3 separate regions of the Homo sapiens genome follow, and regions 1 and 3 are each linked to region 2. The links come from fine-mapping of genetic effects on gene expression. A gene starts in region 2. Each other region holds a variant in brackets. All regions are shown on one strand. Distances are between the middles of the regions. Region 1 overlaps ARFGEF1 (ARF guanine nucleotide exchange factor 1). Region 2 holds the start of COPS5 (COP9 signalosome subunit 5). Region 3 has its middle 21 kb from the start of CPA6.

Evidence for each region. PIP is the estimated chance that this variant, and not a neighbour inherited with it, causes the effect.
Region 1: its variant is fine-mapped to the expression of COPS5 in whole blood (TOPMed, PIP above 0.99).
Region 3: its variant is fine-mapped to the expression of COPS5 in activated CD8 T cells (Schmiedel 2018, PIP 0.94).

What each region holds. Positions count from the first base shown.
Region 1 is chr8:67,260,547-67,268,799 of GRCh38, reverse strand. ARFGEF1 (ARF guanine nucleotide exchange factor 1) reads left to right here. Exons shown (of 39, transcript NM_006421.5): 11 at 1,358-1,457; 12 at 1,570-1,709; 13 at 1,816-1,924; 14 at 2,593-2,794. Among named protein-coding and RNA genes, the nearest start is that of ARFGEF1, 79 kb to the left of the region's middle. The variant C/T (reference allele first, on the strand shown) is at 4,302.
Region 2 is chr8:67,058,010-67,066,009 of GRCh38, reverse strand. COPS5 (COP9 signalosome subunit 5) reads left to right here and starts at 3,877. Exons shown (of 8, transcript NM_006837.3): 1 at 3,877-4,156; 2 at 6,565-6,799; 3 at 7,799-7,927. The coding sequence starts at 4,014. CSPP1 (centrosome and spindle pole associated protein 1) reads right to left here and starts at 1,618. Exons shown (of 31, transcript NM_001382391.1): 1 at 1,472-1,618. RefSeq lists silencers at 1,475-1,662, 1,601-1,740 and enhancers at 3,671-3,940, 4,121-4,210.
Region 3 is chr8:67,763,320-67,771,599 of GRCh38, reverse strand. No RefSeq gene overlaps it. Among named protein-coding and RNA genes, the nearest start is that of CPA6, 21 kb to the right of the region's middle. The variant G/A (reference allele first, on the strand shown) is at 4,587.

The DNA of each region.
Region 1 (8,253 bases), 200 kb before region 2:
CTTCACAGCCTACTATGTATTTCAAAGACAATAGTATGCATAAAGTAAAAGAAAAATAATGTTTTTATTTTATTCTTTACCGCAATTACTTACCACTGGGATGCGTGTGCCTATTAGAAACTGCACACAGCTTCTTAGATCTTGGAATTGAATACTGTCCCCCTCATTCCTGTACTTCATTGATTTTCATTCAGTACTTGGTTTTTTATCATAGCAACTACCAAAACCCAGCTTTGCGGAGATAATTATGTCATTGAAGGGAATGTAGTGTGATTTATTTGAAACCATGAGCAATCTTTTGAGGTATCCAACAGATGTATCTCCCTCTGAATTTTGCCTCAGAATTTTTTCAGGGCACCCTCATGAGTTTGCTACAGCATTCTGGGGTACTTTGATGCAGTTTTTGGGAATTGTGGCCATGTTGCCATAAGTATTTATTGAACACCTACTATGTGCCCTGCAATATGGACGTGATCTTTATCAAGAAAGACCTGGTCATTACTGTCTTCAAGCTTACAGTCTATAGGAGATACTGATATTAAACAAGTAAATAGAAATATGCTGAGTTTTGTGAAAGAAAATCACATTACAGGGGTACCTAATCCAGTTAGGGGGAGATACTATAAATGTGATTTTCTGGGTTCATAATGCATATGTTTCATAAATGTTAATATGTTGGTTGTTTCAGTCATTCCTTCTTAAAGTCACTTTTATAGAATACATTTAAATCTGAAAATTCTTATCTGTTAAATTGAAATTTATCTCATTAGGTTGATTAACTCACTGCTTGATTATTTGGTGTAAAGAGTAGTGAGAAATAGTTCATATGTAGTTTTCAAACAGTAGAGATTTTCACTTTTGTGAGTAATTAGAAAAATAAAACCGTATGAGACTTAGATTGTTTTTATTGTGTTGATTAGAGTATCAGTTACATTTAAATCTACGAACAGTTAGGCCTCTCAGTACTAGAACGTCTCTGAAAAATATAACTGATGAACAGAAGTATAAATTACGCTTTTGGAGGGGGATTAAAAAAGCGTAAGTTATATTCTGTAAAAATGTTAAAGAAATTATCACCTAGAGGAACTCTAAATCTTTGCATATTTCTTTTGTAGCAGCTGTGTTGAGAACAAAACACATCAATGTGAATTGCAGTACTGATAACTAGAAGGGCAAGTTTAAGTCACTTACCCAAGATATTTTAGTCCTGAGGATTCAGAGATGGAACTCAAAAGGAGTTGAACTCCATAAGAGCCTGGGTCCTAATACCTGCTCTATAGCTCTGGGATGTTTAAAAAGTGATCACACATATGAATTCTAAACAATATTTTAAACAGAAGTTTTCTCCTAATCACAGGTGTTCTTTAAAGAAATTTTCTTATACATTTTGGAAACTTCTACCAGCTCATTTGATCACAAATGGATGGTTATTCAGACACTGACGAGGATTTGTGCAGGTATTTTAAATTATCCTTTTTATTATCTCTTTCTTATTATTAGATATTTAAAAGGCCAAATGTACTCATATCCTAGATGTACTTTGTTGAAATTAATGTTATATTGTTACAGATGCTCAGAGTGTAGTGGATATTTATGTAAACTATGACTGTGACTTAAATGCAGCCAATATATTTGAAAGACTAGTAAATGATCTATCAAAAATTGCTCAAGGAAGGGGCAGTCAAGAACTTGGTATGAGTAATGTTCAGGTAAGAACTATAAAAACATTTTCAAATTTAAACTTTACCAGGAAAGAGTCATGTGTTTTCCTTAAAAGACCTTTAAAAAAAATTTTGTTTTTGAATTACTTTGTAGGAATTGAGCCTGAGGAAAAAAGGTTTAGAATGCTTAGTGTCGATTTTGAAGTGTATGGTTGAATGGAGTAAGGATCAGTATGTGAATCCCAACTCCCAGACAACTCTTGGTAAGGTGATATTTTGAGCTGTAATTCTTTGTCATTTTAAGTGAATAATACTTTGGAGGATAGTTGCAGCTGCTGTTAAACCAATTTCATGACATATTTATTCATTTAACTGATGAGGAAACATTCTCTGTGAGTTAAATGTCTAGCTTTAAAATTGTGAGATTTTTAACTTAGTTATCCAAACTATTTTTTTCTAAATCTTCTTAGAAATATTTTGATTATGTAAAATGAAGCATATTTATGCAACTTTCTTGTATTATAATTATAGAGGAAACATATAAAAGGCAGTATGTTTTAAGAAGGTTGAATTGTTCATCTGTGTTTGATGTTTACCCTCACTCAGAGAAAAACTCATAGCTGCAGGGCTACACTGGTATTATCGAAAACAATTCCTCATGAGGAGTGAGCTGAGAGCAGAAATCCAGTGGATACTCAGCACTGCAACTGCAAAAAGAACTCCTCCTAATGGTGCAGACTATACACGTACAAATTACAGTGTGTTTTAATATCAAAGTATGTTGTTTACTATGTTACCTAATAGTTATTTTGTATTAAATAGATATCTAAGCAACATTGAAACGCCTTGCCTTATTCAAGAATTTGTTTGCCCTTACACTTTTTTTTTTCTTTGATAGAATAATGTACTCTATCAATTTTTCTTCTTTCAGGTCAGGAAAAACCCTCAGAGCAAGAGATGAGTGAAATCAAACACCCTGAGACAATAAACAGATACGGAAGTTTAAATTCCCTGGAGTCAACATCATCATCAGGAATAGGCAGCTACAGTACACAGATGTCTGGCACTGATAATCCAGAACAATTTGAGGTCCTAAAGCAACAAAAAGAAATAATAGAACAAGGGATAGATTTGTAAGTGTCATAGCTTAAGGAGAAATGTTATTGAATATCTCTCTGCCAGTATAGTGCCACCCCTGCCGTGGGTTTATCACCTTATAATGAGTAAAATGGAGGATAGTTCTCATGGATCTAATTCACGAGGCTCCTATTCAGCCCCCCTTGTTCATTGCAGTCTAGCCCAACTAGATTCCTGTAATGCCCAACCACTCTTGTCATATAAATTAATTTGTCACCATATTATAAGTGCTGTTGATGGGTATCATCTGTGCAATTTTGCACTGTTTAGCTCATGACATCCCCCCATTATATTTTCTAATCATGTGACAACTCAAAACATTTAAAATATGAAACTTCTAATAGCTATCAGTACTCCTTTATAGGTCTTACATTTTTTCCAGCTGGCTTACAAATGTACTATTCTTGTTATTGATTTCATTTTTATATGTTGATGAGGTGATCACCTCTCTTCCAGCCTGGCTAGTGTACCGGATCCTAATCTTGTGAAGTCAGTTTTCCCACTAAGCTTTGTGATACCTGCCTGCTCCTGGACTATTTCCTTTGTGAATGTCACCATGCTGCCTTCCTTTCTCTTGTTGCCCATCTCTTTTTTTCAAAGAGATGCCATAAGGAAAAATGAAATTGTTTGCCGTCTCCATGAATCTAACTATTATAAACTTAAAAATTCCCCTGTGTGCTTACTTGGTTTGCTACTTCTGTAAAGCATTTCTTCCTGATACTTAAGCAGTGCCTTTTAGTGAATGTTCAGGTGTCTTTTTTCTCCAGTGTTAATATGAAAAACAGTTCAACAAAAATGTACACATATTCTATTTTAAAATTACAAAATCTTACCAAATTGCCTCAGGAAATAGCTGTCACTACTGCATTAATTCTAATTGTTCAGTCAATATTTATTAAAGTCTCATCTTTCCAGATATTATGCAAGATCCTGGGGAAACTAGATACATGGAAAAGCCCTTCCTTCTGAGAGGCTCTTGGTCTAGTGTGTGTAAACAAATATGCATATTGAAATTCTGCTGGTCACCCAGTAAACACATATTTGGTACTTGGGACTATTGCCAAGCACCATGAAGGCATTGGTCCTTGTATTCAAGATTGCATTCTAAACATGAGCAATTTTTAAAAATAGTACTGTGTAAATGTTTATAAAAGAGTGTCGTACAGAGTAAGTACTGCCAAGGTACTTATTTTGAAGTACTTGAGAAATGAGAAGGAGTAGTCAGAGGGCTTCGAAGTGGAAGTCTCCCAGTCCTTCTCTCAGCAGCTAGACTTGCTTTCTACTTAATACAGCCATTGATGAGAATGCTTTCATGGAACTGTATTCCTAGTATACTTGTCTACAACTGTTTCATGACACCAGTCTATCCTGTTTCTCTCCTACCTTTTTGACTATGCCGTCTCAGTCTTGTGGGCTGTTTTTTCTTTCTTCCTGCGTGCATCTTAGCATTGCCAGCGTTCTGTTCCTCAGCCCTTTTCCAACATCAGCCCCTTAGTTCTCCTA[C/T]CCAAAACAAAAGACAAATAGAGAAGCCTGTTATTTTTGTATTTCTTATTTATGGTAGTAACCCCAGCATGCTACTAAATTTATAAGCTAAAATCCTGGGAGTTAGCTTAGATTTTCCCCTCAAAGGATTAGATTCTCGAATCTAATCTGTCACTAAGACTTGTTGATTATACTTCCTAATATCCCTGCAATCTGTACTCTTTTCTCGATCTCCCACCACTATTCTTGCAAATCAAATCATGATTATTTATTTCCTCAACTAGTATAATCTTTCAATTGGCTTACCTTTTTCTTTGGTTTTGTTCATTCTTCAGTCTTTTCCCATGCTTAACTAGAGTAACCTTTCTTGAATGAAAGTCTATTTTTTCCCTCTCTTAGAGAATAAAACCAAAGCTGCTTTGAAGGTATGATAATACCTTCATGATTTGGATCTGCTGGACTCTAAGCTTCATTTCCTGCCACTTTTCTGTCTCACCTCACTTTCCAACAATGCAGAACTATTTATTATATAATACTGTCTTGTGCTTTTGTGTTTTAGTATGGCTTCTTCCTCTCTTGCATGTTTTTTCTTATTGTTTATAAAAGATATAATTGTTCTTCAAAATAGTTCCAGAGTCACCTTTCCCAGGAAATATATTATGACCATCTAAGTTAGTTACTTCTACTGTGTTATTTTCTTACCTTGTGAATACATCTATTTGTCACAGTTTTAGTATTATAATTCTTTAAAATTGTGTTTCTTCCATTACAGTGAGAGCTTCTAGGGGTAGGGGGATTATGTTTAGCTTAGTGAAAAGTGTTTCATTTTATGAATGTTAAGTGGTTATGGTTGGATGAGAACTTGACAAGGGAACCTTTAGGAAGAGCATCCCAGACTAAGAGAATGGCATGTGCAGCAGCAGAGGAAAGGGAGGACATCTGAGCACTTGTTCAGCATGGCAGGCTAGAGTGGAGGGGGAATAACAGGAGGTAAGATTAGAGCATTGGGTTGGATCTAAATTACAGAAGGCCTTATTCTCCATGTAAAGGACTTTTTGTTGTCTTGTTCCTCTTGGCGCTAGCGTGCTAGTGAAGGACTTTAAGCAGAGGAGTAGCATCATCAGATTTCTGTTTTGTAATAGGACTTTGCTGGCAGCCTGAAGGGTGCATTAGAATATGGGCAACATGAGCTAGAGGGAGACCATTTAAGAACTCTTGCAATAGCCCAAATGACAGGTGTTGGAGCACCAAAGTAACAAAAGTAGGAAGTAAATGATCTGTAAACAGAGAGGTAACATTTGAATTGGATCTTTAAGCCTGAGGGAGACTCCCCTGTGAATGGAGCAGGTAAAAGACATGCAGAGGAAATAGACTCTAAAAATAGATTTAGGGAATGGGATATGATATATGGGAGCAGAGGAAGGAGAAGGGAGTGAGAGAGAATCTGGAGCTGTATTGAGAAAGGTTTTGTGTGGTCTAATTAATTTGGACAAATGAGCCAAGATTACTTGAAGATTAAGTAGAATGTATATTCGGAGTACCTTAGGGATATTGTGGGTTCAGTTCCATACCACAGCAGTGAAGTAAATATTGCAATATAGTGAGTCACACCATTTTTTTGATTTCTCAGTGCATTAAAGTTATGTTTATACTGTACCATAGTCTATTAACCTATAACCCCCTTATGTCTAAAAAACAATGTACACACATTAATTTAAAAATACTTTATTGCTGAAAAATACTAGTAACCATCTGAGCTTTCAATGAGTTGTAATCTTTTTGCTGTAGAGTGTCTTACCTGAGTGTTGATGGCTGCTGACTGATCAGGGTGGTGATTGCTGAAAGCTGGAGTAGCTGTGGTAATTTCTTAAAATAAGACAGCAGTAAACTTTTTTGCCTTGATTGTCTCTTCCATTCACGAAAGATTTCTCTGTAGCATGTAATGCTGTTTGATAGTATTTACCTACAGTAATATGTCTTTCAAAATTGGAGTCTGTCGTCTCAAACTTTGCTGCAATTTTATAAACTAAATTTATGGAATATTCTAAATCTCTTATTTTCTTTCCACCAGTGTTCACAGCATCTTAACCAGTAGTAGATTGCATTTCAAGAAACCACTGTTTTCACTTGTCTATAAGAAGCAGCTACTCATATGTTAAAGTTTGATCATGAGGTTACAGCAATTCAGTGTCATCTTCACACTTTACTTCTAAGTCTCTTGTTACTTTTACCACATCTGCAGTTACTTCCTCCCCTGATGTCTTGGACTCCTGAAAATCGTCCATAAGGGTTAGAATCAGCTTCTTCCCAACTCCTATTGATGTTGGTATTTTTACCCCTCCCATGAGTCACAAATGTTCTTAATGGCATCTAGAACAGTGAATCCTTTCCAGAAGGTTTTCAACTTACTTTGCCCAGATTCAACAGAAGTATCTCTCTACATGGCAACTATAAGGCAGCTCTCTACATGGCAGCTTTTAAGTAGTATCTCTTTTAAGTAGTATCTCTACATGGCAGCTTTTAAGTAGTATCTCTCTACATGGCAGCTTTTACGACTTGAAAGTTAGCCTGGCATGGTAGCTTATGCCTGTAATCCCAGCTACTCATGAGGCCTGAGACCAGGAGTTCAAGATCAGCGTCGGCAATGTAGCAATTCCCCATTTCTTTAAAAAAAAAAAAAAAAAAAAAAGACTTGAAATTCAGAGTTACTTCTGAGGAAAGGGCACGGTGGCTCATGCCTGTAATCCCAGCTTTGGGAAGCCAAGGTGGGAGGATCATTTGAGCCCAGGAGTTTGAGATCAACCTGGACAGCATAGTGAGACTGCATTTCTGCAAAAACAAAATCACTCTTTCATCCAAGGGCTGCAGAATGGATATTGTGTTAGCAGGCATGAAAACAACACTAATCTCATCGCACATCTCCATCAGAGCTCTAAGGTGATCAGGTGCATTGTCAATGAGCAGTAATCTTTTGAAAGGAATCTTCTCTTTGAAGCAGTAGATCTCAACAGTGGGCTTCAAATATTCAGTCATCTATGTTGTAAACAGCTGGTGCTGTCATCCAGGCTTTGTTGTTCCATTTCTAGAGTGCAGGCAGAGTAGATTTAGCATGTAATTCTTAAGGACCCTGGGATCTTTGGAATGGTAAATGAGCATTGGCTTCAAGTTAATATCATCAGCTACATTAGCCCCTAAGAGAGCCAGTCTGTCCTTTGAAGCTTTGAAGCCAGGCATTAACTTCTCCTCCCTTGCTATGAAAGTCCTAGATGGCATCTTCTTCCAGTAGAAGAAAGACTGTTTTATCTACATGGAAAATCTGTTGTTTAGTATAACCACCTTCATAAATGATCGTAGCTACATCTTCTGGATAACTTGCTGCAGCTTCTCCATCAGCACTTGCCATCAGACCTTGCACTTTTATGTTGGGAGACTGCTTCTTTCCTTAAATCTCATGATCCAACCTCTGCTAGCTTCCAGATTTTCTTCTGCAGCTTCATTACCTTTCTTAGCCTCATAGACTTGAAGAGAGTTGGGGCCTTTTTTGGGATTAGGCTTTGCCTTAAGGTAATGTTGTGACTGGTTTGATCTTCTTTTCACACGTGAAAACCTTCTCCATATCAGCAGTTAGGCTGTTTTGCTTTCCTACTGGTGTATTCACTGGAGTAGCACTTTTAACTTCCTTCAAGAACTTTTCCTTTGCATTCACAACTTGGTTTGGCTCAAGAGACCTAGCTTTCAGCCTGTCTTGGCTTTTGACATGCCTTCCTCACTAAGCTCAATTATTTCTAGTTTTTTATTTAAAGTGAGAGATGTGCGAGTCTTCCTTCCACTTGAACACTTATTGTAGGGTTCTTAACTGGCCTAATTTCAGTATTTTTTTGTCTCAGAATAGGGAAGCCCAAGGAAAGGAAGAGAGATGAGCCAGTCAGTGGAGCAGTCAGAACACACACAAGTATTGATTAAGTTTACCATC
Region 2 (8,000 bases):
CCTAAGTCAGAATGATGTTAAAAGGATAATCTGAAATCTGCTCAAATGTGTAACAGTTAATTCATATTTGTCTGAAAGCTTCATCTGAGAAAAACTGTACCGAAAGTAGCCTGTTTCAATTTACTCTGTCTAAACTCACCCACTCCCTCCCAGGCGGCCATCTGGCAGAAGACCCAAACTTGAACGGGCACAATGGCTCAGGGCCGTAATTCCAGCACTTTGGGAAGCCGAGGCAAACGGATCACTTGAGGTCAGGAGTTCGAGACCAGCCTGGCCAACAAGGTGAAACCCCCTTCTCTACTAATGCCACTGCACTCCAGCCTGTACAACAGAGCGAGACCCTGTCTCCAAAAACAAAACAAAACAAACAAACAAAAAAACTTGATCCTTGTGGAGCATTTCAGCAGACATTTAATCACCAGAAAGCTAGCGACCTCCTAGGGAGAAGAATGATATGGAGAAAAGAAAATACCTCAATAGCTTCCATGGAGCTTGTCAACATTACAAGTCATTCCTTCACACAGAATAAAGCCTAATTTAGGCTTTTTATAAATTCCTATCGGTTGCTTTTAAGCCCCTGCATTTTCCAAGGTGTTTGGAAAGTAGGTGATGGTTTACTTCAGAATTTAGTCTTCCCCGCAATCCTAGTTAAGCGTCTTAATCCTACAATCTTGAGAGCTAGCCTCTCTCAAAAGATGAGTCCCATTAATAACATGTACTGACAACTGGATTTGAGTCCCACATAAGATTCCTAAAATCAAGGCAGTTAGAAACAAGAGGTTCAAGCTCAAGCAGTCGGGCAATCACGGGGGGAAATACGGTCACAACAGTACGAGCTACGAGCTACGGTGAAGATTAAATAAGTTTTACTAGCAAAGCAGTGCGCACAAGCGCTCCCACGTTAACAATAACAAGCACCGAGGGGCAAGAAAGGCGCTCGGGGAGGCTTGACGGAGCAGGGGGGGCCTGGCCGTTGGGGAGAGAAGGCGCATGGGAACCAAGGAACCGCTCGCCCCCGGGCCCTGGAGGTGGCTGACTAGGAAGCGTCGTCAGGCAACCAGCTATCAACAACACCGCGGGCAGCAGCGACCGCAGTGGCCCAGGAATCCGGACCGTGTAACCAGGGAACCTCCCCGACCCCGGCAGCTGCAAGACCCCTGCTCACAGAACTCCCGCCCCCAACCCTCATAACTCGTAGTCACCGATGCCGGCCTCACGGCGGCGAAATCCCAACTCTCCACACCCTTAACTCGGGCACCTCCCCCACCGCACCCAGCCGCCACGAGACCCCCTGCCGACAAGAAACCCCACCCCCACCCCCAGATTCCAGAGCCTGTAACTCTGGCACGTCGCCGGCCTAGTTGCCTCGAGACCTACGCCCCGAGGGAGCCACTGCCCCTGCCCCCGCTCCGGGGCAGCGAATGCAGCCCCAGGACCCTCCACCCTCAACCTACACCACCCCAGGCCACACCTCGCCACTCACGCTCCCCATCCGCGGCTGGCTGACTCTTACTCAGGGGAGCGGGCTCGCGTCCGGGGAGACACACAGTGCTCTAGAGGATCGTCGCGGACCGAAGAGGTTACAGCGGCCACCTGGAGCGGGAACAGCATGACAGACCTCCGGGCCGGGGCTCCGCCCCTCAGGCCCAGCCCTCCGCTCGCCCTTCGCCAACCGCCGGGTACGGCCCCGCCCCCACTGCAGGCGGCCGCGCGGCAAGACATCGCCCCCTGCTGTCCTGGAGGCCGCATAGCTGCCCGCTGCTCTCGGTTCGCCAGTACGCTGGCCGGGGACTTGGTCAACTCGTTCTCCTGCTGTGCCCAGGGGCTATTAAACTGTGGGGGCCACTTCTCAGGCTAAATCTATTGCAGCCTCTCCAGCCTCCCATGCACCAGCCAGCTTAGGAACAGTGTAAGAGCCTGGAAAGAAAAATGGGGAGGGGTGGTAGTGAGAGGAAAAGTGTTGGCATACCTCTCAGGGCATTACTCCTAGCCCAGGAGTGTGGTCAACGTTGGGTCCTGGGCTTTCATTACCATTTTCAACATATTATTCAGTTCACCCCAATACAATCGCATATGGCCATATGCTACCACTAGAAAAGAGACCTCTAGTTTCCCAGGAGAGTGGAACTAAGGGTAGGTATTAATGTACTATTTTACCCTAAATTTCTTTGTAAGATGGTTTTAAAGGAAATTTTCTTCAACGGAAAGTCAGTGCCAAAACAGCAAGCTGTGGTGTGGATTCAATAATTCTAATGTTTTTGTCTTAACTGATTATTACAACGCATTGTAACAGTTATAGAAGCACCTACGGAGACTTACAGACATAATGGAAGGAATGGTAATTGGAGCGTCAAGAAAGAGTTCGTGGTCGATCTCACTGGACTGCATTTTTAAAGATTAATAGGAGTTCCCAGGCAGAAAATTTACGAAAGAGCGTTTCAAGCAATGCTGACCACATATGCAAAGCCAAAGTAAAGATATCTGCATTGCTAGAATGAAAAGTTTCAAGGGGGGACTAAAAAGAGATGAAGCTGGAAGAGGTGCATAGGGGCCAGGTTGTTAACAGCTGTGGTGCTATCTTTTCTTTTTTCTTCTTTTTTCTTTCTTTCTTTCTTTTTTTTTTTTTTTTTTTTTTTGAGACTGGCTCTGTCTAACAGGCTGGAGTGGCGCAATCTCGGATCACTGCAACTTCCGCCTCCTGGGTTCAAACGATTCTCCTGCCTCAGCCTCATGAGTAGCCGGGACTACAGGCGCACATCATCACGCCCGGCTAATTTTTTTTTGTATTTTTTTAGTAGAGACGGGGTTTCACCATGTTGGCCAGGCTGGTCTTGAACTCCCGACCTCAAGTGATCAGCCCGCCTCGGCTGCCCAAAGTGCTGGGATTACAGGCGTGAGCCACCGCGCCTGGCCTGTCATGCTATCTTTTCAGGAAATAAAAGAAAAAAAAATCTTGAACACCTATGCTAGGTGCTAGGAGATAAAACAAGGAACGCAGACCTGCTCCCTGTGTCTTGAAACTTAAAATCTTGCACGGATGGAAGAATGAGATGGAGAAAAAAGAAAACCTAAAACACGTGAACTAATAAAAAAATTAAACATTGTATTAACTGTAGGAAGAAAACAAACCAGTTACCCAGATTAATTACGCTTTGGGAACAAATGCGGTTCACAGGAGTGCCAAAGATTTAACTGTAACCTGTTACGAGAACTGAGTACTGGACATTTTCAGATCAGTAATGGCACATTATATATACGTAGATGTTAACTTTTACCAAAGCGCAAAAAAGCAATCAAGGAGTACCCACTGCCTCCTCGCATCGATAGAAAAAGCCCATCTGCAAGTGAAGTGCCAAGCCACCACGAGCCCGTTAGCTTTTACGCATGTACAGTGAGTCATCTTGAAGTAAACGGGAATGCCATGTTTATCTTCCTCTCAACCAGCTTCCAGAACGACTTTTAGCTCAGTTGTACAACAGACAGCCTTACCTTTTAGTCTTTCAACAAACTTATCTCATTTAAGGTACCTATACCCACACAAAAACACTTTCCGCCCTCCACATCCCGCTCTTAAGGCTCCAGCTACCTTTAATATGGCGGAGGCCGAGCCTGCGCATTAGAAGCAGAGAAGGCAAATACCAGTTTCTGGAATAACGTTACATGCCCTTCTTCCGGTGCGGAAGACTATACCACTCCCATACCCTATAACTTTGTTTGTTCTATTTCACACATATAATTTTCCGAGACAAGATGTTCTCATTTAAGCAACAAGAAGATTCGTCTCTCGCTATTACTGTAACTGCTGTTTATATCGTCATGTCCCGGAAAGGTCCCTGTCTTCCCTGAATGGTCTCTACCAACTTCACCTCCGGTTCTAGGTGTCATGGCTGCCCCAAGAGTCTAGGTAAGAGTTTGTTCCCGTGGTGCGGAGGGTCAAGGCCCACACCCGGAAACCTAGCGAGGTAAAGTTGCGTCTTGGTTGTAGAGACGACAACTTCTCCGCTTCCTCGGCGATGGCGGCGTCCGGGAGCGGTATGGCCCAGAAAACCTGGGAACTGGCCAACAACATGCAGGAAGCTCAGAGTATCGATGAAATCTACAAATACGACAAGAAACAGCAGCAAGAAATCCTGGCGGCGAAGCCCTGGACTAAGGAGTGAGGAGGTCCCTGGCGAGACGCAGGGGAGGGAAAGGGTGGCGGAGTTTAAGAGACCCAGAGGGAGAGGGAGGTGAAAGGGGTGAAGAGCTTTCACCGACTGGGAGGGGGACAGAATATGCGTCTTGGATCTGCAAGTAGAGCCTAAGCCCTCCGCTGGGGCTTTCACTCCCCTTTCTGTCGCTTTAATCCATTTGCCCCCGGGTGATGTAAGGGGAGAACAACAAGCGGTGATTTAAGTTGTCACTTCTGAACATCCGTATTGTCATATATGCCACACACCCTACCTTGAGCCCAGTGTCGACATGCACCTTGTTTGGGTCTTCAACTAATCCCAAACTGGGGATTGCAGCTGTTTTCAGAAATCGAGTCAGCAGCCCAAGGTCTCAAAAATAGCTATGAGCTATTTTCTTTTCTTTTTTTTTTAATAGAAATGGGTCCTCGCTGTGTTGCTCAGGCTGATCTCGAGCTTCTGCCTTCAAGCGATCCTCCCGCCTTCGCCTTCCAAAGTGCTGGGATTACAGGCGTGAGGCCTGGGCCTATAATAGTTTTTTGATTGCTGGTAATTATTTCGGAGGCACACGGAGGCTCTACTACCTGGTCTCTAAAATGTTACTCCACCAGTTCCCATAAGCCAGAAATTATAAAAATAGAGCTTAAGACCTTTTGCCCTTCAACAATATCCATTTTTCCCTGGGAGTGGTGACAAGTCGAGGGATCTTTACCCATAATATTTATCTTTTCCTGAGAGCATCTCCTGAGAGATTTCCTGCTATCAGGAAAAGATAATTATTACGGGTTATGTTTGAGAGTAAAAAGAGCACGAAAGCTAATGGTTAGATAGAAAGGAAAGCTGTGGTCAACAAGAGGACATACTTCTACTGCCTCACAGTTTTTTTTACAAGGCTAGCCTTGTCTCTCAGTATTCAGATTCCACAATGGTGAACTGCGGAAGCACCTAGCTAGAGATTTCCACGTCATTTAATTTTCATGACAACCCAGTACAGTATATCCATCCTTTTGTTACAAATTAAAAAACAAGCAAATACGTTATGTAATTTATGATCATACTGACATAAGTGAACTCTCAACTGAGCAATAGTCAGACCTAAGATCAAATCTCACAGCTGTCACTAACTAGTTGATTGACCTTAGGAAATTTACTTATCCATCTTCATTTGTCATAATATGGAAATAAGACCTACTTATTGGTATTGTCATAGAGATTAGGTGAGATAATGTATAAAAAGAGTCGTCTAGAATGTATGTAATAGGAGCACAGTAACTTGTCTTTCTTCTTTTCTCCAGTAAAGGGAGAAGCCAAGATTTCGATTCATGTCTTGACTTCCAACATGAGGTCTACACATTTTTCAGCTTTTGGTTGAAATCTGGCAAAGCTTAGGAATTAAATTTGGATTCTTTCTGTGGGCAGACATCTAAAAAGGCTTTGTAGAGACGTTGACTGACTGCTCTGTAAGGCTGCTTAAGTTGCTTGGTTATCTGCTTGCTTCTGTAACAGGCTGTGCATTTTAGGTTCGTGTACTCTTAAATATTTGGAAACTGTTGGCCTGCCTCACTGTCTAATTGTGGCTCTAATTATATTCATCCTAGCTGTCTTGGGCTGCATTAATGAGACCAAAATGTAATTTTATTCAAGAGTTTAATTCACTGATGACCAACTCTGAAATAGTGATCATAGGAGACTAGGATATTAGGGCTACTTTTTAATTTAAGGCTGATATAACAGGGAAGCCCACCCTTCAACACTCTGTTCTTTGAGAGTAGGGTTAAGAGACAGGTTAATAATGCTGATAACAGCTAGCACTTATTAGGGTTCTAGTATGTGTAAGGCACTAAGCACTTTATATACATTATTTCATTTATTTCATCCTAACAACAATTATGAATATCCCTATTTACAGAAAAGGAAACCTAGGCACAGATATTACAGGGTTGTCCCAATACCACAGCTAGGGAATGGCAATGTCAAGATTCAGACCTTAGCAGATGAATGTCAGAACCCACATTCTTAACCATTAGGCCAGAAGGTTAGGCCTCAGAACAGTTAGGCACAACCATCCAAGCAGTCAGAATCCAAGATTGGGTGATTCCAAATTAATGGAGAAAAAGTCTGTTGAACTGGTCATGTTACTCCCTTATTTGAATAGCATATTAAAAAAGTATTTCAGACTTTTCCCCTCCCCTAAGGGGGATACGTTGCTGCACTATGACATACTTATTGTTTCCAGCCTGCAAAAACTGTCCTTTTTTACTTTTTCTCCCCGTAGTCTACACTCCCTTTCCATCGCTCTAAATTCCTTCAATACTTACTCTTTATCTTCATAAAAACTTTTCTGAAATTTTACTTTATATAAGGAATTTAATTACATTGTGATTTTGTTTTGCAGTCACCATTACTTTAAGTACTGCAAAATCTCAGCATTGGCTCTGCTGAAGATGGTGATGCATGCCAGATCGGGAGGCAACTTGGAAGTGATGGGTCTGATGCTAGGAAAGGTGGATGGTGAAACCATGATCATTATGGACAGTTTTGCTTTGCCTGTGGAGGGCACTGAAACCCGAGTAAATGCTCAGGCTGCTGCATATGAATACATGGCTGCATACATAGAAAATGCAAAACAGGTAAAAATGTTGTTTCTTATAGTTTAGTAATTGCAAGTTAGAGTCTCAAGGTGACTTTTGAGTTTCTAAACTTAAAATTATCCCCTTTACATGAAATTTTATATTTAAATTTTAATGATTTATATGTAAAATGTACGAGATTAAAAGCCTGATAAGACTTATAGCATGGTTTTTTTTGTTTTTTGTTGTTGTTGTTTTTTTTTTTTCGAGACAGGGACTCACTCTGTTGCCCAGGCTGGAGTGCAGTGGCGTGATCTCAGCTCACTGCAACCTCCATCTCCTGGGCTGAAGCAATTCTCCCTCCTCAGCCTCCTGAGTAGCTGGGACTACAGGCGTGCACCAGTAGGCCTGGATAATTTTTCTATTTTTAGTAGAGACGGGTTTTCTCTGTGTTGGCCTGGCTGGTCCCAAACTCCTGTCCTCAGGTGATCCACCACCTCAGCCTCCCAAAGTGCTGGGATTACAGGCATGAGCCACTGCACCCGGTCTATGGCATGGATTTTATTTTTTTTTTAAATAAACTCTCACACTTATTATCAGATACGTGTTTAAAATAAAAAATTTGGAAACAACCTAACTCAGTTCCTGAGTATAAAACTGGCTAAATAAATTATGGTATATCCATCAGTGGACTGCCAGGCAGCCTTTAAAAGAAAAAAAAATAAAAAGATAACCATCATATATATTGATGATTTATATGAAGCAAACTCCAAAGCAGTTTATTGAGTGAAAAAACAAAGTGTAAAACATTATTATGTTATGTGGTATGCTATTGTGTGTGTTTTTATCAATCTATGTATGTGCAAAGAATATGTATTCTGTATACAAAGAATATCTCTGTAAGGGTAAGCAATTGCCCATAGATTTCGCATCTGGGCTGAGAAAAGTGGGTAATTGAGGAGAAGGAGATGGGAAGGAGACTGGTTACCCTTATTGTACTGGTACCTTGTAAATTAATTAAAGAGTAATCTTAAACTTTTTTGCCCCTTCATTTGTTAGGTTGGCCGCCTTGAAAATGCAATCGGGTGGTATCATAGCCACCCTGGCTATGGCTGCTGGCTTTCTGGGATTGATGTTAGTACTCAGATGCTCAATCAGCAGTTCCAGGAACCATTTGTAGCAGTGGTGGTAAGAATTTTAAAACCAGTTTAATTAAGTTCTTTATGAAGATTTGCTGAAGCAAGTATACTGAGAAATAAGA
Region 3 (8,280 bases), 710 kb before region 2:
TTTAAAATTCAGACTTTATCAGTTGATAACTGTCGAGCTGGGCAATGCTGTTAACCTCTCGGATCCTATGCTTCTTTTTCTACAAAATGGCTATAAAAATAACACCTGCTTTACGGTGCTGCCAGGAAGACTGAATGTGATGACACCCTGTGCTTTGTTCAGTCCCTGACACAGGAGAAGATGCCCAGGATTTGTTACTACAACCATTACTACTCAAGATACCCCCATTTTACCCTTCCCAGTCAGAAGGACAAGACACTCAGAAATGTAGACCCCGGTGGTATCATTTTCAAATTGATCATGTCAATCAGTGTTTTTTAAGAGTTAGTTTTCTAGAAATTTTTCTTCCACAGAGTGAAGGACACTTACCTAGTTACTCTAACATAGCTGAGTATCTCTACATAAAGCAAAAATAGAAAAAAAAATGCTTACCATTTACTGGTAATATAAAATAAAATATGCCAAATATGGCTTCTTAACACTAATTTTGGAGTGAACTAATTAATGAGAAATTCTCTCTTTCTGTCCTATAGTTTCCTTGTTTAGTAAAAAATTAAGTAGTCTTGTTATAAAATTAGTTCAATAGACAGAGTTGATGTCCTTGGAGAGGACTTCAGGGGAAGGTCTGGTATTTCACACACAAGATGAAAGAGCACATAGCAGCTATTTCTGGAGCTGAGAAAAGGGGCCATTAACACATTTCAGTGAGTTTTTCCCTCGCGAAATTGTGCCAGGTACACATTTTACATTTTCACTTACTAAGAAAATGAATATCTTAAAATACAAGAACTAATTTAACTCCAGTGTAACATACTAACAATCCCAAGTCACCCTTATCATAGGAATGATTCAAAAGTTAAGTGAAATGAAGATTTCTACACTGTGTTTTTTAAATAAAGTCAAGGCAGAAAAATGTTACTTGCTATCAGAAATGTATGAACTCTAATGAATAAAAATATAATTTACAGGGAAAACAAAATTTGTCTAAGTGAAATTCAATCTGTTAATCATATTGCCAAACAATACTTCCAATTTGGTATAGAAACTGACGCCTTAAAACAATTGAGAGTACAAAACTATCTGGCAATGTTAACTTTTGAAATGATCTTCAAACTGTGTAGAAAGGACTAACATTGTTAAGCAGGAACTGAATCCCAAGATACAGAGGAAAATAAAGTACTTGGTCACAGTAGATGGTATCAAACTTTCAGACCAAGACATATTATATCTCAGGATACAAAGGGAATGTGCAGGTGCAATCAGGGACCCAAATAGATTCCCCAGGAGAAATCAGAGAAATGAAAATATATTAAGACTTGGGGTAAAATGCCTCTCTCTTCAAAAGATAAGCCATAGAAAATACCACAGAATAAACTTCATATCTATATCTAGAAAAATTCTAAAATGGTTTATAGGTTGCCAATATTTAGGAAAGAAAGAGGTGGTCAAGAGGTTCCATAGGTTCCAAGTGGGTTCACTAAGGAAAGGAATTGCCCAAGTAACCATCAGTTTAAGGAATTGTCATAGATACCATATAGGATTTTAGCAAAGCAGTTTAAAAGCTTTTCTACATGATCCAAGGATAAATATACTATATGAATCAAGGCCATATTTGCAGGCTCATTTTAACTGGATTTGTAGATGGTTGAATAATGTTAAATATGGATAAGAATCCACCTGGAAGGGGGTCTCTAGGGTTTTGTATTTGGTCTTGTTATTTCTTATAATGTTGTCAATGACCTAAATGAATACCTAAAAAGGTACATAAATATCCATTGAATATTAGAATAAAGATTTTAGTAGATTTTGCCTTTTCTTTCCCCAGACTGAAGAAAAAATTGGGGCCAAAATAAATAAGAGGAAATTTATGAAATTTAAATAGAAACTTTTATGTATTGATTCAAAACACAAATATACAAGGCATTTTATTTCATAATGACCCTGTGATGTGGGTATTACACTTGCATGTTGTAGATGATAAAACTGAGGTTTGCCAAGTTAGTAACTTTCCCAAGTCACTTTACAATCTCTTGCTTCCGTGGTCACATCTCTTTCTACACAATCTGATCCTCCTGCATCCCTCTTACAAGGAACCCTATGATTACTTCAGGCCCACTATTATAAACTAAATGTTTGTATCCCCCCAGAATCCATATGTTGAAGCTTAAATCCCTTGATGTTATGGTATTTAAAGGTGGAACCTTTGAAGACAATTAGGTCATTAGGGTAGAGACCTCTTGAATGGGATTAGTGCCCTTATAAAAAGAAACAAGAGAGGTAATCTTTACTTTTCTGCCATGTGAGGACAGAACAAGAAAACAGCTGTCTACACACCAGGAATAGTGTCTTCATCAAACACCAAATCTGCTGGTACCTTGATCTTGGACTCCCCAGCCATCAGAACTGTAAAATATTAATTTCTGTTTTTTAAGCCACCCAGTCTACAGGATTGGATTATAGCAGCCAAAACTTAGTAAGATGCCCATGCAAATAATTCAGGGTGACCTCCCTATTCAAAATATTTAACTTAATCCCATCTGATATGGGTTGGATCTGTGTCCCTGCCCAAATCTCATGTCAAATTGTAATCCCCAATGTTGGAGATGGGGCCTGATGGAAGGTGATTGGATCATGAGGACAGTTTCTTATGGTTTAACACCATCCCCCATGGTGCTGTCATCACAATAGTGAGTTCTCCTGAGATCTGGTTGTTTAAAAGTGTGTGGCATCTCCTCCTTCTCGCTCTTGCTCCTATTCCAGCCATGTAAGATGTACCTGCTTCCCTTTCACCTTCTGCCATGATTATAAGTTGCCTGAAGCCTCCCCAGAAGTCAAGCAGATGTCAGCATCATGCTTCCTGTATAGCCTTTGTAACTCTAGCCAATTAAACCTCTTTTCTTTATAAATTACCCAATCTTAGTTATTTCTTTACAGCAGTAAATGGGAATGGACTAATATATAATCGGCAAAGTTCCTTTTGTTATGTAAGGTCACATTCACAGGTCCCAGGGATTTGGACATGAACATCATTGGGAGACATTATTCAGCCAATCATACTGGTACAGAGTGATCAGGGTGTAAGTGTTACAGATGAGGTCAGAGAAGTGACGAGGAACTAAATCACATGGGCCCTGAAGGTCACTGTAAGAATCTTGGGTTTTATCATGAGTTAAGTGGAAAGACATGCAGAGAAATGACACAATTGAACTTGCATCTTTAAAGGACCACTCTAGCCAATGCATTGAGAGGGGTCTACAGAGAGCCATGATATATGTAGGAAAAACAGTAAGAAGGCACCTGCCATGATCTAGGTGAGAAACCAAGGCAACTCGCACCAGGGTGGAATCAGTGGAAGTGGTCAGAAATCATTGGGTTTGGAGATACCTTGAAGAGTAGAGCCAAAAGCATATTTTGACAGATTCAGTGTGCTCAGAGAAAGAGTGATCAAGAATGATTTCTTTTTGATCTGAGCAATTAGAATCATGGAATTGCCACCAACTCAAATGGAAACTTCTGTAGAAAGAGTAGGTTTGGAGGCAGATGTTAGGATAGAGCTGTGCATTCTGTTTGGGATATGTTAATGTTATCATTACTATCCAACATCAAAGTAGAGCTATCAAATAGGAAGTTGGATTTAGGAATCTGGCGTTTAGGAAAAAATCATGAGCTAGAAATATAAATATGGGAACATGGGAATTGTCAGCGTATCAGTGGTATTTTCAGCTATGAGACTGGATGAGATCATCAAGGGGATACATGTAAAAATAAATAAGAGATGATTAAGAACTGAGTTCTGGAGCATGTCCATGTTCAGAGGACAGGGAGAAGATGGGGAGCTATAAATAGGGACTAAAAGAAAGTGACTGTGCAAGAGCAGTTTCTTGGAAGACAAGTGAAAAAGTATACTAAGGATGATGAGTTATCCTCTCCAACACATGGGGTGAGCACTGAGAACTGGATTGACCAATCTCTGTGACCTGGAATAGTCTGATAACTCTGAGCAGTAAAAGCCAAGACAGCTTTGCCACTGCTTCAGCTGGGGTCAAACCAGCTACAAGCAACACAATCTACATGCTATACAGGGCTTTACATAATCCATAAGCTGGGTTCCATTACTTTCAGTCTACTGAAACCAATGGGCTATTTGCAGGGTTTATCTTATTTGGATTCTCAGTGAGGAAAAATGTAGTCGACCACTCCCACCTGAAATGCTCTCTCCCTTGCTGCTACCATTCTCTTTGTTAGAGAACCATGGTTTGGGCCGGGCGCGGTGGCTCACGCCTATAATCCCAGCACTTTGGGAGGCTGAGGCGAGTAGATCACAAGGTCAGGAGACTGAGACCATCCTGGCCAACATGGTGAAACCCCGTCTCTCCCAAAAGTGCAAAAATTAGCTGAGTGTGGTGGTGCATGCCTGTAGTCCCAGCTACTCGGGAGGCTGAGGCAGGAGAATTGCTTGAACCTGGGAAGAGGAGGTTGCAGTGAACCCAGATCATGCCACTGCACTCCAGCCTGGTGACACAGCAAGACTCTGTCTGAAAAAACAAACAACAACAACAAAAAAAACATGGTTTGGGAAAATTACT[G/A]GAGCATTTTAGGCAAAGAAATGACATGACTATATTTGCACTTTGGAAAAAAATCACTCTGAAGGTATGTTGAGCCATGCAGAGAAGTAGTATAGGAGGATCTCAGGGAAGAGACTGAAAGAAAGGAAGCCATGTGAGAGCTAGCTGCATGGAGATGGTTCAAGGATGAGAAGAAAAACAGTAGGTAAATGTATAGGAAGTAGAGTTGATTAGACCAGAAAACCCAGTTTGATGTGAGGACAGTGGAGGATGTGGGTTCAAAGATGACTACTAAATATATGGATAAATAGTGGATGATTGCATCCGTGGGAAACATTTTTAAGAAATAATATTTCTGTGACTCTGTGTGAAAATGCGATCATTTTCAGAGACTCTGATTCAGTAGATCTGAGGTGGAGCCTAGGATTCTGCATTTGTAGTGAATATCCCAAGTTAACCTGGTCCAGACATCCGTGCAACATACTTTGAGAAACACTAATACAGGCAATGCTTGAATCCATGATAGAATGTGCAATGCTCATTCTCTTAAGACATATTTACTAGGCTGGGCATGGTGGCTCACACCTGTAATCCCAGCACTTTGGGAGGCTGAGGTGGGTGGATCACCTGAGGTCAGGAGTTTGAGACCAGCTTGGCCAACATGGTGAAACCCCATCTCTACTAAAAATATGAAAATTAGCTGGGCATGGTGGCACGTGCCTATGGTCCCAGCTACTTAGGAGGCTGAGGCAGGAGAATCGCTTGAACCCAGGAGGTGGAGGTTGCAGTGAGCCAAGATCGAGCCATTGCCCTCCAGCCTGGGCAACAAGAACAAAACTCCATCTCCAAAAAAAAAAAAAAGAAAAGAAAAGAAAAGACATATTTACTAAGCTCCTACAAGGTGGCATATATGGTGCTAATTGATGGAGATGCAAAAATAAAAACAAAAACGGACAAGGCACCTGTGCTACAGACTGGTGGAGCTGTTGGAGGGGACAGACATGCAAATTTATCATTACAGACTCTGAGAAATGCTTTAAGAAAAAGTAACAAGCCTTGTGGGAATACAGGAAAGGAGAACTAGATCTAGTTTCGGGAAATTAGGAAAAGTCTCTCAGAGGAGGCAGCATTTGGGCTGAGATCAAACGAATGCCTAGGAGTTAACTTGGAAGTTAAGTGGGCAAGGAGGTAAGATTATAAAGAGTGAGAAGGAAAGAGGGCTGAGGCAGAACTTCTGGAGAGCCATTATCAGAAGTCAGGCAGCAGAAAAGGATAATGAGAAGGAACAACCAGAGAGATAGAAGAAAACAGGGAGAGAATGATGTCATGGGTCCTGCAGCAGAACATATAGAAAAGGAAAGGAGTGGCCAATAGTGTCCAGTTCCAAGGAGAGTCCCGTGAAGTCAGGACTGAAGAGTGACCTTATGCCAGGACACTGTGGGACTGCAGAAGAGAGGCAGGGAGGTGTGGAGGCTAGGAGGGTGGATTCTGAGGTCACCTGCCTACAAATCCCAGCCCTAGCACTTACTATCAGTGAGATCTTTAGGAAGTCTCCTAATATTTCTAGTGTCAGTGATCCCATCCGTAAAATCTAATATGATGGGAGGCTCATTAGTACAGAGCTATTTATCTGGCTTATTCATTGGAGTATCTCCAATACCTAGCACATGCCCAATATATTGAAGATAATAAATATTTATCAACTGAGTAAGTATAGTAATAGTAATACCTCACAGTGTAGCTAGCATTCAGTGAGTTAGTATGGATAAATCACTTAGAACAATGGTTTCCAAACTTTGCTGTATTTGGGGATCATCTGAGAATCTTTACAACATAATGATACTTAGCTCCATCCCTAGGTACTGATTAAGAGTTCAAAAAACTCTTCAAGTGAATTCAATGTGCAGCAAACTTCGGGATCCATTAATTTAGGGCAATGCCCAGCATATAGAAAGCATTTTCCAAATAAACTCAGTTGAGGAAGCTTGCAGGAAGAGACAGAATTCAGGGGGAGGGTGGAAACCAGTGTGCAACTGACAAATTACATGTACAACATAATTGTGAACTGAGTGCTCATTATCCAAGAGTTACCCCCGCTAGTGTAATTGCAGACTTTGACCCACTTGGTGCATTGAATTCTTTCCTCTTTCTACCAAAATTAAGTAGGTATTATTTGTGCTCAGCATCTGTTGGAAAGAAGCAAAGAAAGTGTCTGTAAGAGTGAGACTTGTCTCTCCAAAAGGTGGGCAAGGCCAAAATGCACACTGTATAAAAGAAAAAAGAAAAAGCCAGTGAAGTCACCTGCAGTCCCTGTGGTAATACGTACCGATGCTTCCAAGCAGTTTTGAAAATGATTCCTACCATCACTTCAGATCAGCTGAAGAATTCAGCTCACAGATAGGTTTTATTTCATCTGTAGCTTATGTAACCCTATCCAGACTATATTTTCTCCCTCCGAGAAATCTTGCAGCTGTGAGATTAATGCCAAGTTGTGTGTTTCAAATACAATTCAATAAAGAAGGCTTCCCTCAGATAACAAGAGGCTCTCTGAGATTATTTATACAACAGCTGTTAACTTTTGTGTTGAATTCTGGTTGGATATTTGATGCTTTCCTTTAATTCAGAAAAGCACTTAAAGCACTTAGAAAGGCACTGGATTGATCTTCAGTTTTGGAATCCCAAGTTGGCAGAGCAAAATAGACACAGTTCAGTAAAATTTTGGGAGCAAATTTTCTGCTCTAGCAAGCAGGTAAAAAATGGAGTTAGAAAAGCAGTCTGGACAAACAAGAGTTTGCTTATGACAGAATAAGGAGTTCACACTGAAGGAAATGTGGACACAACTGAGAGGGAAGTCAGATGAAAGTAGGGGTAGAGGATTTCAAGGTTAGTGGAGAAGGTCAAAGATTAGGAATTAGGGTGGCATTTGCAAAGGAAAAGGCCTGGAAAAAGGAGGAGAGAGGATGAGGAGCGTTCCAGATCAGGGAGAAGGGGTAGATAAAATACTTAAAAATTATTCGTTGGGAACATGAGAGAGAAGAAATGAAAGAAACAGGCAAAGAAGAGGCTTCCCAAACAAGGGAGAAAATGAATAAGTAGGCCACTTAACACGAAAAAGTCTGGGGCAGGGTCCAGGAGTGGTGGTGTTAGGATTACATGCTTGTAATCCCAACACTTTGGGAGGCCAAGGTAGGCGGATCACATGAGCCCAGGAGTTGGAGACCAGACTGGGCAACACGGTGAAATCCTGTTTCTTAAAAAAAAAAAAATACCAAAATACAAAAATTAGCCTAGTGTAGTGGTGCACACTTGTAGTCCCAGCTATTTGGGAGGCTGAGGCGGGAGGATCACTTGAGCCTGGGAGGTGGAGATTGCAGTAAGCTGAGATGGTGCCACTGTACCCCAGCCTGGGCAACAGAGCAAGACCCCGTCAGAAAAGAGAAGAGAAGAGGCGAAGTTATTAGCATAGAATGCTTTTATCATTGCTACCTTTGAAGAAATCTGTAAGTAAGCATTTTCAAAAGTTCTTAGTTTCAATTTCCAATAGAGTCAATATCAGTAGTTGTAACCCACATAAAAGAAAAGAAAAGAAAAAAGAAGGACAGAGGGAGGGAGAGACAGAGACAGAGAAAGGAAGGAAGAAAGAAAGAAATGTTGATGTGTGAACAAGATGATAAGGGCAGTTAAGTCAGGAGCCTAGGAGAGCCTGGGTCGTGTT